Linked DNA regions of Homo sapiens. The protein of the gene in region 1 interacts with the protein of each later gene in a pairwise test. Each region holds a gene or a part of one and is shown on either strand. Other genes may lie near its edges.

Region 1 (7,519 bases):
GACAGGAGCAATGTGAGGCTCAGGCTTCATGTGCACCCTGAGGAATCCCAGGGACCATCTGCTGCTCCCGTTGCCCTCTGTCTAGGGGAGCAAGCCTGTGACTGCAGACAGGGAAGGAGTAACAGTGGAGCTGGGAAACCGGGTTCCAGCCTGGCCTCGGCCTCTTACAGCCTCGTGGACCCGCCCAGGCCCCAGCTTTTGGGAGCCTCATTTCCCCCCAAGTTGCCCCGTGCCAACCCCTTGGGGTGTCAGGTAACAGGCAACGATGGCACGGTACACACAACACAAAGGGAACACCTCATTGCCCTGTGTGCCCTGGGAGAACACGGCTCTCACCAGTGTGAGCTGTCATGTCCGACCTGGCTTCATCCTAGCACAGCAAGACAGCCAGGTCTCGTGGATCTGCCACCACCCCAAGTGATGGCCCTCCTTGCCCCCAGCAGCAGCCTGGTGTATCAGGACCCCCGTACCTGCTGATGTGGACGCTGAAGTCACCCCTTATGGTTCCTGGGGCAGCCTCAGCCGAGTCGGTGTGTCCAATCATGGCCCTCGAGGCGCGGACGACATTGTACCCTTCCCAGACCTGCAGCGAGAGATAATGGTTGGGGAGAAGTGGGGAACACCAAGGGCCCCTGGGCTCAATCCAGGGCCCCTCCCTTTGCTGGGGGGAAAGACACACCCACACGCCCTTTACCCACAGGCCCTTCCACCACCCCTGCCCTGCCGTACCATGGCCACCACAGGCCCAGAGCTCATGTAGCGGATGAGGGCAGGGTAGAAGGGCTTCCTCCGCAGGTCCTGGTAGTGCTCGGCAAGGACGCTCTCTGGTGCCTGGGTGGCATTGAGGTAAGGAGGAGCCGCAGACAGTAAACGTGGGCACTAGCACAGCAGCTGTGATGCCCTGACCTCAGGCACCTTGCAGATAACACCAGCATGGGCAGCACCCCCACCGCAGAATAGATCCCTCCTGCCCCTTCAACTGCCAAAGCCAGGCCCTGCCCCGGCGCTGGCTGGGATGTGAAAGGCCGAGAAGGATCCCCCAACCCCATCCCCACAGGGACACCCACAAGCCCAGAGTCCCACTACCTGCAGCATCTTCATCCCCACCAGCGTGAAGCCCCGCCTCTCAAAGCGCTGGATCACGTCCCCAACGAGCCGCCGTTGCACGCCATCGGGCTTCACCGCCACCAGGGTCCGCTCCCGGGTCCAGGAGGGCCCTCCTTCAAAAGGCAAGAGGTCAGAGGCACTGCCACCTCACCCTTTCACGTCCCCACGACCCGGGTTTCCCAGCCAGAGCCCAGGGGTCACCAGGCTTCAGGGTGTCTGCCTCTATGCAGGGCACTCTGGAAGGGACAGGGATGGTGCCCACAGCCACAAACACCCCCATGATAGTCCCTGTCAGGGACACCCAAGGCAATGTGTCCCCAGGGCTTCTAGCCTCTCCCAGGGGCCATGGCTCCTCCCAGCAGAGGCAGAGGCTGCCTGAGATCGCCCCGAGGTTCAGGGAGGCACTGCCCAGCTCAGGGACCACCACCGCAAGGTCCATAGAGGCAGAGCCAGCTCAGGGACCACCTCAAGGTCCAGGGAGGGACAGCCCAGCTCAGCGACCACCCTGAGGTCCACAGAGGCACAGCCCAGCTCAGTGGCCTCAGGGAAGTCTGGAGATCCTGCAAAACTCCAGCCTCACTTTTGACTCCATCCCTTCTGGATGACGACAGACATGGTCTGAAGCCCCGACTTTCCACATGAGGAAGAACCCAGAGCCCACCCTGTGTCTGAGGTGAATGAGTGGCAGGGAACCAGGGAGAAACACACTTTCCCCACCAGGTGAGCCCTGGAAACACGGACAAAAAGGGGCCTGAAGATTGAAGAGGGAAGGTAGCAGGGTTCTGTCCGAGCCAGGAGACGGGGCCTGTGCTGCTGTGGAGTTTCAAGGCCTGTCGCTTCCAGACCCAGGGTCAGCGCTGAGCTCCGCCCCAGCCGTCCTCCTCTGGAGGGGACGCTGCCAGGGAAACAGAAGACGTCCTCACCTTCCTATAGTCCCAGGCTGCTCCAGAGCCAAGCTACCCTCCGGCATCGGGTCCCTGGTTTCCAGAGGAGCCCAGACCCTGTATGTCCCACAGAATCTGGACAGAGCCAAAGGGGCTCCGCCAGGCCAGGAGGAAAAGTTAACCCCAGCAGGCGGCTGAAGCCCACGGGAGGAAGACCCCCTGGTTGGTTTGTTCCCCCAAAACCCAGTTTGCAGGGCGCCTTGTGTAGCCTGGGGCTCTGCTGCGGCTGGTGCGGGCATTGCAGGCGGCGGCTCACTTTTCAGAGCCGATGGAGGGAGCCCTGGGACATGGATCGTCCTGTGAGGTGGCAGCTGGGGGGGCCGGGCAGCGGCGGGGCCGGGGACTTGGGGCCTGACGTCCCAGTCAGATTCTGGCCTAACTTGGCCTTCAGCGAACGCCCCAGCGGAGCGGCTCCCCCCACCCCCACCCCCCGACTCCCTCACCCCCCCACACCCCCACCCCCACCCCCCGACTCCCTCACCCCCCCACACCCCCACCCCCACCCCGGCCGGGAGACCCCCTCCCCGCCCAGTGCTGCAGCCGGCCTCTGCCTTCCTTGCGCTCCCGGGCCCTCGGTCGCCCCGGACCCGCCCAGGCTGCCAACTCGCCGGGCGCCTGCAGCCTGGGGCCTGGGGAGGCGAGAAGGAGCCGCAGAGCCGGACGGGCACTGGAGGGGCGTGCGGGTGCGAGCCGGCGCCTTCCCCAACTCGGACGGACCCCGCAGCCCGCGCCCCGAGGCCTCTGGGGGAGTCGGACCCCAGCCCGCACGTGCGCGCACAAAGGCCGAGCGGCGCGCGCCCCTTCCTCCCCTCCGCGTCCCCGCCGGGGCGCGCGGCCCCACTCACCCGAGCCGTGGCGCACTAGCAGGCTCGGGCCCGGGGCCCGCGGGCCGCAGCGCAGCCCCCGCAGCGCGGAGCGCCAGAAGAGGCCGCCCATGACGCCCGGCCCGCGGGCCGCTGTGAGCGCGAGGAGCGGGCGCGGAGGGCGGTGCCAGCCCGAGACCCGCCCCCGCCCGCCCGGGAGCCCCCCGCCGCCCCGGAGCCCCCCGCCGCCCCGGACCCCCGTGGCCCGGCGCTCACGGGGGAAATGTTCAACGCCAATTTCTGTTAAAAATCAGAAGAAAAAACAAAATAATAATGAATCCTTCTCGAATTGCATTCGTCTTTACACCGACGCAACCGTTAACTATCGTTTTAACGCTTTCCCACGGAGGAAGGCCCACTCGGGAGGCTGAGGCAGGAGGATCGCGTGAGCCCAGGAGATTGAGGCTGCAGTGAGCTGTGACTGCACCGCTGCACTCCAGCCTGAGCAATAGAGCAAGACTCTGTCTCAAAAATAAATTCACGGACCAAAAGGAGGTCTAGAAGCCCTGGTCTGAGCCCCCTCCAATGGAGGGTGAAATTCCCACGTGAGCCCCAGGGCGGGAGAAGGAGGCGCTCCGGAGACGCTGACTCTGCGGCCAGGACGAGTAGGCGGGACTACAGACCCGCGCCACCACAACCAGCTAATATTTTAATTTTTTGTAGAGATGGGGCCTCCCTATGTTGCCCATGCTGGTCTCAAACTCCTGGGATCAAGAAATCCTCCTGCCTTGGCTTCCCAAGGTGCTGGGATTACAGATGTGAGCCTGGTCTGTGAATTTGAATGGGGAAAAATCCGACCTTTATTCTCAAATGGCCTCTGATGTGACTGCATTCCTCTAATTCATTCAATTGCGGATATAAGGAAGAAGCCACATTCATAGTTGCAGGGCCTGTGACTTTGTCACCAACAGAATTCACAGGTACGGTAATATTTGGGTAGATAGCACAGCATGCTACTATTTGAAATGGTTAGGTCTCCCACTGCTAGAACTTACTTAATGAGTCTTGAAAAAGCCTGTTCTTTTTGCTGCTATTGTGAATGGAATTGTTTTCTTATTTGAATTGTCCATTGCAAGTGTATAACAGACAATTGAGGTTTGTTTGTTTTCAGACAGAGTGTCGCTCTTGTTGCCCAGGCTGGAGTGCAATAATGGCATATCTCTGCTCACTGCAGCCTCCGCCTCCCAGGTTCAAGCAGTTATCCTGCCTCAGGCTCCCGAGTAGATGGAATTACAGGAGCTTGCCACCACACCTGGCTGGTGTTTTTTTTTATTTTTAGTAGAGACGGGGTTTCGCCATGTTGGCCAGGCTGGTCTCAAACTCGTGGCCTCAGGTGATCCACCCGCCTTGGCCTCCCAAAGGGCTGGGATTACAGGCGTGAGCCACCACGCCTGGCCAACAATTGAGCTTTGTGTATTGATCTTGTATCCTGCAAGCCTTCCAAATGCATTTATTAGTTCTAATAGTTTTTAATTAATTCCTTGGGAATTTCTTTGTATAAGATTGTGTCATATGGAGCGGGGCACACTGGCTCATGTCTGTAATCCCAGCACTTTGGGAGCCCGAGGCGAGCGGATCACGAGGTCAGGAGTTCAAGACCAGCCTGGTCAACGTGGTGAAACCCCGTCTCTACTAAAAATACAAAAATTAGCTGGACATGGTGGTGCATGCCTGTAATCCCAGCTACTCAGGAGGCTGAGGCAGGAGAATGGCTTGAACCCAGGAGGTGGAGCTCACAATGAGCCGAGAGCATGCCACTGCACTCCAGCCTGGGCAACAGAGCAAGACTCTGTCTCAAAAAAAAAAAAAAAAAGAAAAGAAAAAACATCATGTCATATGGGAATAGAGACGGTTTCAGTTCTTTCTTTCCAATCTGAATGCCTTTTATTTTATTTTCTTGTCTAGTTGCTCTGACTAGAATTTGCAGTACTATGGTATAAAGAAGTGACTTTCTTTCTTTTTAGAGGCTGGACTCTTGCTCAGGCCTATTATCCCAACAATTTGGGAAGCTGAGGCAGGAGGATCACATAAGCCCAGGAGTTTGAGACTAGCCAGGGCAATATAGCAAGACCCTGTCTCTTGAAAAAAAATAGTAAATAAACAAAAAATATATGAGTGAAGTGTATAGTATGTCAATTGTATCCCAATAAAGCTATTGCAAAAAGGAAAAAGCAGATATTACTATAGCGTACTCTGTTTTTTTTTTGAGACGAAGTCTCACTCTGTCACCCAGGTTGGAGTGCAGTGGCGCGATCTCGGCTCACTGCAAGCTCCGCCTCCCGGGTTCACGCCATCCTCCTGCCTCAGCCTCCAGCTGGGACTATAGGCGCCTGCCACCACGCCTGGCTAATTTTTTTTTTTTTTTGTATTTTTAGTAGAGACGGGGTTTCACCATGTTAGCCAGGATGGTCTCGATCTCCTGACCTTGTGATCTGCCCGCCTCAGCCTCCCAAAGTGCTGGGATTACAGGCATGAGCCACCGCGCCCGGCCACTATATCGTACATTTTTTAATGTTTTATTTTTGTTTTTTTAGCAACAGGGTCTCGTTCTGTCACCTGGGCTGGAGTGCAGTGGTGCAGTCATAGCTCAACTGCAGCCTTCACCTCCCAGCCTCAAGCGATCCTCCTGCCTCAGCCTCCCCAGTAACTAGGAAAACAGGCCTGAGCCACCGCACTTGGCCTAAAATATTTTGTTTTTGTTTTTGTTTTTGTTTTTGAGATGGAGTCTCACTCTGTTGCCAGGCTGGAGTGCAGTGGTGTAATCCTGGCTCACTGCAACCTCCGCCTCCCAATTCAAGCGATTCTCCTGCCTCAGCCTCCTGAGTAGCTGAGATTACAGGCACGCGCCACCACACCCGGCTAATTTTTGTTTTTTAGTAGAGATGGGGTTTCACCATGTTGGCCAGGATGGTCTCGATCTCTTGACCTTGTGATCAACCCGCCTTGGCCTCCCAAAGTGATGGGATTACGGGTGTGAGCCACCACGCCCCGCTGCCTAAAATATTTTGTTTGTTTGTTGGTGAGACATCGTCTTACTCTGTTGCCCAGGCTGGAGTGCAAGGGCATGATCTCAGCTCACTGCAACCCCCACCTCCTGGGTTCAAGCAATTCTCCTGCCTCAGCCTCCCGAGTAGCTGGGATTACAGGTGCTCGCCACCACACCCAGCTAATTTTTTGTATTCTTAGTATAGACAGGGTTTCGCCATGTTGGCCAGTCTGGTCTCGAACTCCTGACCTCAGGCGATACACCCACCGCAGCTTCCTAAAGTGCTGGGATTACAGGTGTGAGCCACTGCGCCCGGCCTGGCCTACAATATTTTGATAATTTATTTCAGTATAGTTTTTTATATTTTTATTTCCTTGTATTTTATTTTGCACATTAAAAACATGCTGAGACTGGGCGCAGTGGCTCGCGCCTGTCATCCCAGCACTTTAGGAAGCTGCGGTGGGTGTATCGCCTGAGGTCAGGAGTTCGAGACCAGACTGGCCGACATGGCGAAACCCTGTCTATACTAAAAATACAAAAAATTAGCTGGGTGTGGTGGCATGCACCTGTAATCCCAGCTACTCGGGAGGCTGAGGCAGGAGAATCCCTTGAACCCGGGAGGCAGAGGTTGCAGTGAGCTGAGATCGTGCCCTTGCACTCCAGCCTGGGTGACAGAACAAGACTCCATCTTAAAAAAAGAAAAAAAAAATTATGCTGGGCCGGACGAGGTGGCTCATGCCTGTCATCGCAGCACTTTGGGAGGCTGAGGCGGGTGGATCACCTGAGGTTGGGAGTTTGAGACCAGCCTGACCAACATGGAGAAACCCTGTCTCTACTAAAAATATAAAATTAGCCGGGCCTGGTGGCAGGTGCCTGTAATCCGAGCTACTTGGGAGGCTGAGGCAGGAGAATTGCTTGACCCTGGGAGGCGGAGGTTGCTGTGAGCTGAGATTGTGTTATGGCACTGCAGGCTGGTAGACAGAGCAAGACTCTGTCTCAATAAATAAATAAATAAATAACTCTCTTGGCCAGGCGTGATGGGATGGTTCACACCTGTACTCTTAGCACTGTGGGAGGCAGAGGTTGGAGGATCACTTGAGGCCAGGAGTTTGAGACCAGCCTGGGAAACATAGTGAAACCTGTCTCTACAAAAAAATAAAAAATTAGCGGGGCGTGTTGGTGTGCGCCTGTATTTCCAGCTACCGGGAAGGCTGAGGTGGGAAGATTGCTTGAGCCCAAGAGGTCCAGGCTGGATTGAGCTGTGATCGCACCACTGCACTCAGCCTGGGCAACAGAATGAGACCCTGTCTCAAAACAAAACAAAAAAGAACTCTCGTAACTCAACAAGAAAAGCAAAACCCAGTTCATTTCCTTGTGTAATGCCTACCCCTTGAGTGTGGACCATGCCTGGTGACTGACTTCTGACACAGCAAAAGAGACGGAGTGTCACTTTCACAATCTGGTCACCAAAGACTGCAGCTGCTGCTGCTCCGCCACCTCCTGGGAGAAGCAGCTCCCCTGTTGTGAGCAGCCCTGTGCGGAGGCCCCCATGACAAGGAACTGATGTTTCTGGCCAAAAGCAACATAGGTGGGCTTAGAAGTGAATCTGCAGGAGGCTG
Region 2 (7,974 bases), on another chromosome or scaffold:
CGGCCACCATGTGGCTCGAAATGTGGCCTTGACTACCTTCCTAAAGCGGCGAGAGGCTTGGGAACAGCAGCAGGGTGCGGTGGCCAAGCGGAGGCGGGCATTGAACTCCATACTTGAAGACTGAGGCTTTGGATCTGGGACTGGGTGTTGATGGGGGAGGGCAAAATGGGGTATCCACCCCATCCCTTTCCTGGTTTAAATTGGAGTCAGAAGTCTTAGTGGTAAATATTTGATATTTTTATTGGAAATGTTTTTGTTAGTTTGAGGGGAAGGGTATGAAGACAGATCTCAAGGTAAAGTCAGAGAGGGCTGTCATCAGTATGCTGGGGAGTTTAGGGACAGGAGGCATTGGTAGGGGATTAGATGTAGCAGCAGTCAGGCTGGGATCAAGATGCCTGGGGGACATCTTGATCTTGGCCTTTCAGGGCAAGTGGGAGGCCAGAAAGGTGGCTAGGAAAGAACAGCATTCTTCAGGTAAGGGTATAGACTTGGGATGTGAGGCGTTATGCTGAAAGGTTCTGTCACGAGGGGATCAGAGGACAGTGGGGAAATTGGGTGGGTTATCTAGCCTGTACTGTCTGCAGGTCCTGAAATTTGATGCTGTCATAGTCTTTGCAGTGGGTCGGTTGGAATGATTCTGGGGGCAGAAGCTCAGAGCCCCTTAGTAGGAATGGAGGCGGCCCTTCTGCTGCCACTGCTCAGCCCCCTCCACTGCATGACGAAGGGTGGAGGAAATTCCCAGCAACATATGGCCCAGGCCTTGCAGCAGTGTGGAGGTCCAACGAAGGAGCTCCCTGAATGGCAGAGACAAGAGGAAATCAGATGATTTGGAAAACTTGGGAGGAAGCCATCAAGCTGGGAGATGAGGACTTTCCACAAGCAAGAGCTAACTAGGGGTAGGTGGGTGCAAGAGGACGAATTATGGGGACTATCCAACTGTAGGGGATGGGGCAGTATGACATGTTGATTTCTGACCTGAGTACTTTCTTTGGGCCAAGTCCTTGAAAGTCACAACTCATAGAGTAGAGCCCGTAGAATGTGGCTTTGACATTCAGGCTGCCAAAGAGGTCTCGAGGGTTTTGCTTGTACACGTCAAAGGTGAATCGGGCGATGTCCTTGCTGTGCTTGGGCCTCTCCCGTCCCAGGCCATATGACAGCACTCCACTCTGTAGGACACCCTTGTCAGTGCAGTAGATCCTCATACCAGACACCCACCACTAATCTCCATCAGCACTGGGTCAGACCCTCCCTCGCTTGGACTTTCTGTCCACTGTGTGACATCCTTGACAATTCCACAACTCCTCCTGCACCTGGTCCCCAGGATCAGGGTTAAGCTAGAGAGGAAGCCCGGGAAAGCTCTAAAGGACAGGCATTGGAAGCAGCCCCAGTATAGGCCTCTTACCCTTGTAGGGCTCCAGCTCTGACCAGACTGCAACACCATCAGGCACGTGTCATCCTCCAGCAGCTGGAAGAAGTCCTCACTGTCCACTGCAGTTCCATCCTCCTCTAGCACCAGGGTTAGCACTCCATTCAGCAGTAGGGTCTCCAATGCCTGCCCAATGGCAAGAAGCAAGAAGGGCAGGTCTTATCCCATGCCCCTTCCCTCTTTAGCTGCCCAACATCCATCAGTTGGCTCTAGACATTGGTCGATGTCCCACTTTGACTTTCCGGCACTTTGATACCTCCTAAAGGTTGCAGCTCTCCGTGTTCTTCAGTTTTTGGGGGATCCTAGCTAGAGGCTGACCTTTTTCCTCTTTGCTCCTACCATGTCATTGGCATCTCCCCTTGCTCCCCTCCAAGTCACTTCTGGTTTGGAATTGGAAAGCAAGCCAGGTTCTCACGAAGTCCACCCTTCTGTCTTATCTACAATGCTGCACCTCACTTCCCACACCCTCAAGAGTTCTCCAGAAGTGTTTTCAGTAATAGTGTTTAACCTTTTTGAGTCCTTACTCTGTGCCAGGTATGAGGACTTTACCTACATTATCCTCTTACTCCTTTCAACAACCCTAGGAGGTGATGTATTATTATTGCCTTTTTATAGTTGAAGAAACTGAGGTTTTGGTAGGTTGAACAACTTCCCAAGGTTTGACAGGCAGGAAGTGGCAGAATCAGAATTTGAACTTGATTTGTCACACAAATCACCTTTCCATACTAGCTTCTGAATTCTGTCCCTCGAACTCTCCCTATCTCCTGCTAACCCCTGCTCCCATAGAAAAGCTCACTCGGTGGAAAATGAACAAATTGACCAGAGCTCATTAGGCCCACTCCGCTGCTTTTAGCCCTCAGAGGGAGGGGCAGCTGTGTGACTTCAGCCCTCTGCTCCATCATCACAAGTTGCCACTGTTGTGGAGCCCCTTGGCTACCCCTGCTATAGGAACCGAGGAACTTGGCCTACTTACTTTGGCTAGCAGCTCCTGGCGGGTGGCAGCTGTCAGGCCTTTCCGGATGGTCCGCTTGTGATCACAGACACGGAAAGGTCGCTGGGGTGGTGGAGCTGAGGTCCAGACCCTCCGTCCAAACTCCGAGCTTATATTAGATACTGACCTGGTAGTTGAGAAGAAAAGTCAAGAAGGGGCGAGGAGGGGCTTGGTGAGTGTAAAGGGCATGATGAGGGTAGAGTGGCTAGAGGGCTAGGGAGGGAGAGATCTAGGTTTATCGATTAGGGATGAGGGAGAGACCATGGAGTGCAGGTGGGGGCGGGTGGCTCAGGAGCTTGACAAGCCCACTGTGGAGTGGGGAGCAGGAGAGGAAGGGGTACTGGTTAGTCTCCTAGGGGCTGAGTGGAGTATTGTTGCCCTGCCTATATCCCCTAAAGGTGGAGGGTAGAGCGGAGGGTTAGCAGTCACCTGAGTAAGTCACTGGGGTTCAGAGCTGAGAGGTACTCCATGGTGGACCGGAGAGTTCCTTCCCTGGAACTTCTGGGCTGGGTGGTTCTCTCCTGTGCTGGGGCTTTAGTGGTGTTTTCTGTTACAAACCTGGGATCTCAGCCCAGGACAAGGTGGGAATGAGTCAAGCCTGGACTCTGGCCCCCCTGCCTGGCCAGTAAGAAGGGCAAAGTCCAAGGGGAGGGATGAGGGAGGGGCCAGATGGGGTCCTGGAGGAAGAATTGCCTGGCAAAAGCCATTGGAGCTTGTATGTGTGTCTTTGGTGATGACATGTGTTGTGAGGGTAGATGGGAACCATGTAAAAGGATGAAATGTGACTTCTGGTGTTTTTTTATTTCTATGGAGGGAATTTCTGGGGACGGTTTCTGGCTCTCAGGCTCTGAGAAGCTGCAGTTTATGAGTGGCTCTGTGTGTGCTGCCACCTACTGGAGAAGCCATAAGCTGCAGCTTTAGGAAAAGGGAACCCGGGGCAGAGTGTGGGGAAGTGGGATGGCAGCATGGCAGGGCTTTGGAAAATGAGAGGTGAGACTGTGTCCAGGAAGGGTGTAAGGAGAGGATGGATCCTGATACATGGATTCAGGATCATTAGGGTCCTGTCTGGGACACTGGCCTTCCTGCTTACCTGCTCTTTCCTTCCTCCTTGGTCGGAGGAGGGGCTGGCTCACTGCTCTGGCTTCATTTTCCAGAGCTGCCTGCTGCAGTCACACTTAGGTCATCTTCTCTCACTTTTCTCCTTTTGCCGATTAGTGGACGTGACAGAGATGTGAATGGGGCAGGGATGTCCTTTGATGGCATCAAGACTTTAGCTTCTGGTGCGCTGTGTCCCAGCTCTGATTTCAGTTGCAGCCGTGATGGACAGTTGCATGGAAGCTGAGACTCTCACTGACAGTGAAACCCTCAAATGAACACAATCCCTGCTTTCCTGCCAAGGATCCTTGTAGGGTCCCCCAGCTTCCCCACTTTTTTTCTGTGTCCTGACAAAGAAACACAGAGTAACTTGATTGCCCTGTGACCTGGCCAGTTGCATTTCCCCTGCAGGCTTGAGCCCAAGCCAGAGCCTTGAAAAGGTATTCAGGTTGTTGCCCAAAACACTGAAAAAAACTGGCCCTGGCCCTGAACCAAATACCTTGAACCCTCGTAAACTCCATACCCTGACCCCCTTGTTTTGGATATACCCAGGTAGAACAACTCTCTCTCACTGTCTGTTGTGAGGATACGCTGTAGCCCACTCATTAAGTACATTCTCCTAATAAATGCTTTGGACTGATCACCCTGCCAGTCTTTTGTCTTGGGCAATCTATACTTTTCTCAGAGGTTCCCAAGGCCTACTGAAGGGACTTAACATACTCTTAATGGCTTTCCTCTCTCTTGTTTTACCTTATGCCCTCACTTCCTGAGTTAACCTCCCAAATACAGGATCACCTGTACCCAAGCCCTTAGCTCAAGAATACAGGATCACCTGTACCCAAGCCCTTAGCTCAAGCTCTGCTTTGGAAGAACCCAAACTAAGACAGTGCTCCTGGTGCCCTCCCCAAGCAACCTCAAGTTCTGGCTGTTACTTGAGCAGAGGCCTTTCTTTTCCCTTCCCCCAGCTCTATCCATCTGCCAGGCCCCCCTCAAATCTCTTCATTTCCAAGTTTTGCTTGACTTTTCCAAGAGGAGAGGGCTGCTTCTTAGTATGTCCCTACTCATCCTTTCCTTTCTTGTCTTGTATCCTGGTGCAGCCTGGTAATGGGGCCTCTTCATGGTTGTGTGTCATGACTCCCTAACCATTATGCCTCCATGCATCCCCTGTTCCTCCTGGAACCTAGCACCATGCCTTACATGGAAAAGCTGTCATTGACAGCCCGGTGAGAGCCCTGAGGGTGGAGTGACTGGGGCAGGGCCTGAGGCAAGAGGTGGGAGGAGGTAGGAGGCCAGGGGCTCAGCCGGACCAGGAGACTGGAAACAGGCAAGGATAAGGCAGGTGGGGGACTGAGTTGTTTGGGTCACCTCTGCAGGCCAGAGAGACCAGGCAACATACACACTGCAGAAGGTGGGCTGGGAGGATTGGGGCCAGAGCTGGGGGAGGGATGAGAACAGAAGCAGGACCAGGATTCAGCAGAGTCCTCCTATTTCCTTCCACCACCAGGGAATCTTACTGCCCCACTTCAGCTTGTGCTGTTTCCTGGCAAGGCAGGCTCTCACATGCCTGGACGCCTGGGTGCGTTGGTGATGGGAAGGAGCAGGGTGAGGGAGGGGCCCCAGGAGAGGCCCAGGATGAGCCTCATCTTGTCCCTCCCCATTCTTGTCTTACCCTCTGCAAATGTGATAGGCACAGGACAGGAGTAGGCACCTCGCCTACTGCTGCTTAACCTTTCAGCTTCTCCAGGCCCCCAATCCTGCTTGCTCCCAGCTTGGTAAGTAGATCTGTGCACGTCCCTTTACACCCCACCATCCAGTTTTGCCCAGATGTGCTAGAATGGGGCTGGACAAAGAAGGAGGGGCCAGACTAGAGGAGTGGTGGTAGAGATAGTGACAGCCTGGGGTGATGACTTTATGCCTGTTTACCACTGAGCTCTGGGAAGGAGGCCAGGAGTGGGGCAGGTCAACTGACTGGGAGCAGGGGATCTGGGTTCCAAGAAGGAGTTGTGTTTGAGGTGGGGTCTGGGTCCTCGTGGAAGTCAGGACTCCCAGGCAGAAAAGAGGCAGGCTGCAGGGAAGTAAGGAGGAGGCATGGCACCTTCTCATCGGGCATCACAGGTGGGGTTTTGCCCCACCCCTGAACGCCCTCTGTGGCGCCTTCCACCCACCTGTAGGCCCAGAAGGATGTCGGTCTGCTACCGTCCCCCAGGGAACGAGACACTGCTGAGCTGGAAGACTTCGCGGGCCACAGGCACAGCCTTCCTGCTGCTGGCGGCGCTGCTGGGGCTGCCTGGCAACGGCTTCGTGGTGTGGAGCTTGGCGGGCTGGCGGCCTGCACGGGGGCGACCGCTGGCGGCCACGCTTGTGCTGCACCTGGCGCTGGCCGACGGCGCGGTGCTGCTGCTCACGCCGCTCTTTGTGGCCTTCCTGACCCGGCAGGCCTGGCCGCTGGGCCAGGCGGGCTGCAAGGCGGTGTACTACGTGTGCGCGCTCAGCATGTACGCCAGCGTGCTGCTCACCGGCCTGCTCAGCCTGCAGCGCTGCCTCGCAGTCACCCGCCCCTTCCTGGCGCCTCGGCTGCGCAGCCCGGCCCTGGCCCGCCGCCTGCTGCTGGCGGTCTGGCTGGCCGCCCTGTTGCTCGCCGTCCCGGCCGCCGTCTACCGCCACCTGTGGAGGGACCGCGTATGCCAGCTGTGCCACCCGTCGCCGGTCCACGCCGCCGCCCACCTGAGCCTGGAGACTCTGACCGCTTTCGTGCTTCCTTTCGGGCTGATGCTCGGCTGCTACAGCGTGACGCTGGCACGGCTGCGGGGCGCCCGCTGGGGCTCCGGGCGGCACGGGGCGCGGGTGGGCCGGCTGGTGAGCGCCATCGTGCTTGCCTTCGGCTTGCTCTGGGCCCCCTACCACGCAGTCAACCTTCTGCAGGCGGTCGCAGCGCTGGCTCCACCGGAAGGGGCCTTGGCGAAGCTGGGCGGAGCCGGCCAGGCGGCGCGAGCGGGAACTACGGCCTTGGCCTTCTTCAGTTCTAGCGTCAACCCGGTGCTCTACGTCTTCACCGCTGGAGATCTGCTGCCCCGGGCAGGTCCCCGTTTCCTCACGCGGCTCTTCGAAGGCTCTGGGGAGGCCCGAGGGGGCGGCCGCTCTAGGGAAGGGACCATGGAGCTCCGAACTACCCCTCAGCTGAAAGTGGTGGGGCAGGGCCGCGGCAATGGAGACCCGGGGGGTGGGATGGAGAAGGACGGTCCGGAATGGGACCTTTGACAGCAGACCCTACAACCTGCTGCCCTTCCCTGTCCCTTTCCACCCCCCACCCACCCTCCAGAGGTCAGTGTTCTGGGACATTTGGGGACCCTTCTTTGACTAGAGTTTGGATCTGGCTGGGTAGGATTACTATACACTTGGGGCAGGCCCAGGCTCCTCCAAACTGAGGGATTATGAGGGTGGTGATGGTCCCTGTTAAGGACTATTGTGTGCTTGCAAGTTGGCATGTACCCATGTGCCAGCATTGCTTACTTGTTGCCAATAGCTGTTATTGTGAAATACACTGGGAAGCCATTAGATGATGACTTAAGTGTGCTTCCCCTGGTGGTTCTTCATGCCTGAGTTGTACTGAAGCCACCTAGTTCCCTGCTGGGTCAAGCCAGGCTGGGCAGTGCCAGCCTTCAGTGGCATCTTGACCTGCCCTCCTCAGCCCAGGTGCCCTGGTTCCACAGGCCAACCCATAGAACCACTCTGGAAATAAAGGAGAAAATGGAAGGAGAGGTATGGGAGCTTGGATGAGGGGTAGGAATGGGATCCATTCTCTGAGGCTTATAAAAGCCTCTGAGGAGGAAATGGCTCTGAAGGGGAAAATGAATCTGTGGGGTTTGAAAAGGAAGTTTTCCTGCCTGTCTTGTATTTGGTCCAGTGAGTATGAGACAGGCACACAAGGAGTGGACAGTGGTGTAGGGGCCCTGGGAGTCTGAGACTTACCTTGCCCCCTGACCATCTGATCCTCCCTGCAAAGGCCACCTGACGTGAAAAGGAGCCAGGAGCAAGCACTCAGTCAGGGAAGTTTGGAGGTTGGCCATTGGGGTATGAGGAATGGCAGGAATATTTAGAGGACAGGAATAATTTTTCAGAGAAGTGCCACATATTCTTTTTCTCTTTGCCAAGTCTGGGCTCCTTCTAAGATGCTGCTAGCTATTCCTAGCCCGTTCCCCAATACTTCTCTGCCCCCACCTTTTGGAATCCTTATCTAGGTCTAAAAACGGTTCTAGATCCTGACCCCTTTGATTGGGGGATGTAGAATGGGATTCTTTTCAGGGGACATCCACAAGTACACATCTGTGGTCACTAAGGTGACCAGCTCATCCCAGTTGGCCTGGAACTTTCCCAGTTTAAGCACTGAAAACTCCTTGTCCCAGCCCTGCCGGTTTCCCAACAAACTGAGATGGTTGGCCGCTCAAGTGGCTACCCTGACCAT
Region 3 (3,572 bases), on another chromosome or scaffold:
AACAACAGGTGAAAGCACACAAATATAGAAACTGTTTTTGAAGAAGTTGGGGATGTTAACCTTTTAGTTCAAGATGGGGGGTTGTTCCAGAGTGAAGGAAGGTGAGATGCCTCCCGTTCTCATGAGCTAATGATTGTTTCCAAACTGGTTAGAATTCAGTGCTAATTGCATTTTAAAACACCACCTCTGAAATCCTTTTCTCTCTCAGGATCTTGCATCAATGTTTCACATTTTCAATGCAACCTTTGCACTTCACCTTTCTCACTCAACAAATTCTGAATGTCAGATCTACGGGAAGAACTCAGTTCAGATCCTTCCTCTCCCCAGCAGGTTTTGATCTGGTGATGGTGATGTCAATTCCTAGGAAAGGCTGTCCTGCCCTGGTTCTGAGGGGAGAGAGACAATTAAAATCGGTACTTTGGTGACTCTACTCAGGCTTGTCCATTCTAACAGGGAGTCATTAAACAACTTTCCAGTGTCATTCAAAGAACTTATAACAGAATCAATTGATTTTCATCCTCTGCTTTATTAGTTGTGATTTAGGAAATAGAATGGCCCTGTTTACACAGCTGTAACATGTCAGGGCCTGTAGTACATTATTGGCTTGAGGCCTCCGAGTTGCCGTCCATTCTCAGCAGAATCAATCTGAACTTGAAAACATTCCCTCTAGGAAACATGCACATATCTACTAGCATAAAGCACTTCTTGCACAACTGAAAACAGTATTCACTTGAGGTAAGTTGCAAGTTCACCTTCCAAAAATCAGCCCTGACTTGTCATTGCTCTCAGCATGTTCACGATGGGAGCAGAGGGCTACAAATGCCTCTTTAACTAGGTACCCAGCATCGGCGAATGTGCTACACTTTGCTGCTAGTCAGATCTCAGACTCTGCAAGTGGGAGTAGCTGGCTGTTTAACATGCGTTCAGAGCACTGCCAATCTAAAATGGCTGCTCAGTAATACTTTAATTGCAGTTTCATGGAAACAAATTGCTATTTAACTGCAATAAGCACTTCTGTGACTTGGCTGCACTAACAATAGGTGAGTCTTAGTAACAAAGCTATAAGTAACATTAACTTGTAAATGGCCTTTTTCCAATGGCCTCTTGAAGGGGTCATAGGTGGGACAGCACCCAGGATAGAATTCCCTGGTGAAGGGTGAAGGGGTCTTTGGGGTGAAGGGTGATGGGGTTTTTGGATCTCCTCAATTTAAATACAATTAGTTAGGCTACATGGGAACTCTTCACTAGACTCCATATGTAGCTCTTGGGTTCACTGTTTATTATATGATTTATGGGCCCTAAGAAATATTTTATATAAATAGTAGTGCACATTAGAATCTTACTATATTGACATTTAAAGCCCTTTAAGAGCTTCCTTTTAGATGATTAGTTGTTTCAAATATCAGTGTTAATAAGGGCAAAAGAAAGAATTTAAATACAGGTAATATTAAGAGGATGACAATTTCACAGACTTCATTTTGGTGTGTCAGTTTTCTCGTTTTGTATTTTATAAGACACTACAGTCCGGGTTAAACTATTTCCTAATAAATCATGAAGAGCTGAAAATAGTTTCTAGTGGCAAACGATTTGGTTTGGAAAAGCTTCAGGCTCCCCTGCCTTGCGGGATGTGTAAATCTAATTAGACAGTTAGATAGGTAAAAAACATTAAACCCTTTTAGAGGACTATCTTTTTACAAAATTGTTTCATTAACAAGAGTGACAATTTGCATGATTGAGACATTTATATGTACCATAAACATAATTTTTTTTATCAGGAGTTCAGCAGGGCTCAGTAACATTTGCTTTTATTTTTAATTGCACTTGCTTGTAGGGACTGGGGGCCATCTTGCTCTATGACGTGGTTAATATTAAATAAGTCCTTTCTAAAGAACAGTGTCCATCTTGCTAACTAATAACATCACAAATGCAATGGATGAAAGGTGGAATAAACTCATAGATTTTTTTTTTTCCTAAGCAATGTTGAGATTGGGGGAGGAACTGCACACAATCGCTGCTCACATCAGAATAAACCTGAGTGTTTTTAGTAGCTTTCTATCCACACAGAGCATCCCCATTAGAGCCGGGTTTTATTGTTTGAAATGCCTCTGGTTTCAAGAAAGTGTTTTACCTAAAGCAAGACTACTACTTAAATATGTTCTATTGTATATTCATAGCTCCATTAGTCCTTCTCCAATTTAGCACATCAAAGAGAAGGCTTCATCACTTGCATGTGGATTATACTAACATGAGTGACATTTGTAATCTTATAGGTCTGCAACTTAAGAAATGCTTTTAGAAGCTCATTATTAAATACGCAGCAGTGCTTGAGGAACCAGCCATATAATAGTTTATTTAAAGTCCGTAATGACCTTAGCCCTCCACATCATTAAATGCGACAATATATTATTTACTAAAGTTATTAACCACCTCCTTTGAATTTGTACATATCAGGGACATAAGTGCTTATGCCAAAAAGAATATAGAAAATGCCTGCAATCTCATTAACCCATTTCCCCCTTTACCATCGCAGTCTAACTTCCTTCAGAAAGTTCCTTAAAGGAAAAAAAACAAATATAAGAACCAGAACTAGTTTGAAGAAATTCCCCAAGGATCTAATTCAAACAGACATCTAATTCAAACATATATATGTGATTTCTTCATATTATTTTCTTGCATTTTATTTTTATAAGGTTCTAACAAAACTATTCACCTCAACTCTATGCCTTTACAATCTCCTCTAGGAGGTTTGAAGTTCAACTGATTTTTTTTTTCCCCTGCCCTGGAATCTCTGAAAACAGGAAGTGAGCACAGAAGTTCTCAAAGGGAAGCTGACTGGTAGTTGAGATGTGCTGAGCTACACCTCTCTACATGGCTCCACGGCTATTCTCAGAGGGAGGGTCTACATCAGGCGCTTTTCTGGAACAAAATAAAATGCCATCTTAAAAAAGAAAATTTAAAATAGTAGCGTTCACACACCTGGTTTTATTAGCCTGTGATGGAAGTTGTAGTTGAAATTTGCTCACATCTAAGGAAGCTGGCAGTACAACCTCAGCCTCCAGGCCTATTTGGTTTTCCTCCTTCCAGCACTAGCTGTTATACTGCATGCTTTCCGGAGGGCAGCTCTGCGGGCAGTGCAGGCACTGTGGTGGACACTCTGCTGCCTGCAACCAGCAACTCAGTATCTCAAGACTAAGACTAAATGAAGTCAGAATCTTCCCCCAAAATACATACGGAAACGCAGTCAGTAAAGAAGTGTAGGAGCAAAACAAAATAAACACCTTACAGCCAACCACACGAGCCTAAGGGTCACCAGGAAATGGCTACTTCACCAATCAAAGATCACCATAAAAAAAGAGCTCTGGGTCCCTACAACTAAGTGAGCTTCAAAATATGTACAGGTATGACTTAGAAATTGTGACTTCCTTCAAAAGCTATAAACTCAATAAGAGAACAGGATGGTTGTGCCGTATTTTTTTTTATACATACTTTTCATCAATACCCAAGGCTTTGTTTGCTATTGAGAAAAAGAATAAACAAAATAGTGGACACTCAAGTATTTATAAACACAAAAG

Evidence for each region. The genes of interacting proteins can lie anywhere in the genome.
Region 2: the proteins of NME4 (region 1) and CIDEB interact in binary tests that used the Homo sapiens proteins (3 or more experiments, as listed by UniProt).
Region 3: the proteins of NME4 (region 1) and LMO4 interact in binary tests that used the Homo sapiens proteins (3 or more experiments, as listed by UniProt).

The regions. Positions count from the first base shown.
Region 1 is NC_000016.10:392,691-400,209, reverse strand, and holds the start of NME4 (nucleoside diphosphate kinase, mitochondrial isoform a precursor), read right to left. Parts: upstream 3,012-7,519; 5' UTR 2,988-3,011; coding exon 2,897-2,987; intron 2,469-2,896; exon of another isoform or gene 2,031-2,468; intron 2,003-2,030; exon of another isoform or gene 1,816-2,002; intron 1,221-1,815; coding exon 1,087-1,220; intron 832-1,086; coding exon 730-831; intron 584-729; coding exon 471-583; intron 102-470; coding exon of another isoform or gene 20-101; exon of another isoform or gene 1-19.
Region 2 is NC_000014.9:24,304,972-24,312,945, forward strand, and holds CIDEB (lipid transferase CIDEB), read right to left. Parts: upstream 3,007-7,974; 5' UTR 2,888-3,006; coding exon 2,847-2,887; exon of another isoform or gene 2,545-2,846; coding exon 2,400-2,544; exon of another isoform or gene 1,553-2,399; coding exon 1,403-1,552; exon of another isoform or gene 1,167-1,402; coding exon 976-1,166; exon of another isoform or gene 795-975; coding exon 662-794; 3' UTR 216-661; downstream 1-215. Other genes in the region: NOP9 (nucleolar protein 9), read left to right, coding at 1-124; LTB4R2 (leukotriene B4 receptor 2), read left to right, coding at 5,694-6,770. UniProt on the Homo sapiens protein: Lipid transferase specifically expressed in hepatocytes, which promotes unilocular lipid droplet formation by mediating lipid droplet fusion. Lipid droplet fusion promotes their enlargement, restricting lipolysis and favoring lipid storage.
Region 3 is NC_000001.11:87,345,858-87,349,429, reverse strand, and holds the end of LMO4 (LIM domain transcription factor LMO4), read right to left. Parts: 3' UTR 507-3,572; downstream 1-506. UniProt on the Homo sapiens protein: Transcription cofactor. Plays a role in establishing motor neuron identity, in concert with MNX1, acting, at least in part, to disrupt LDB1-LHX3 complexes thereby negatively modulating interneuron genes in motor neurons.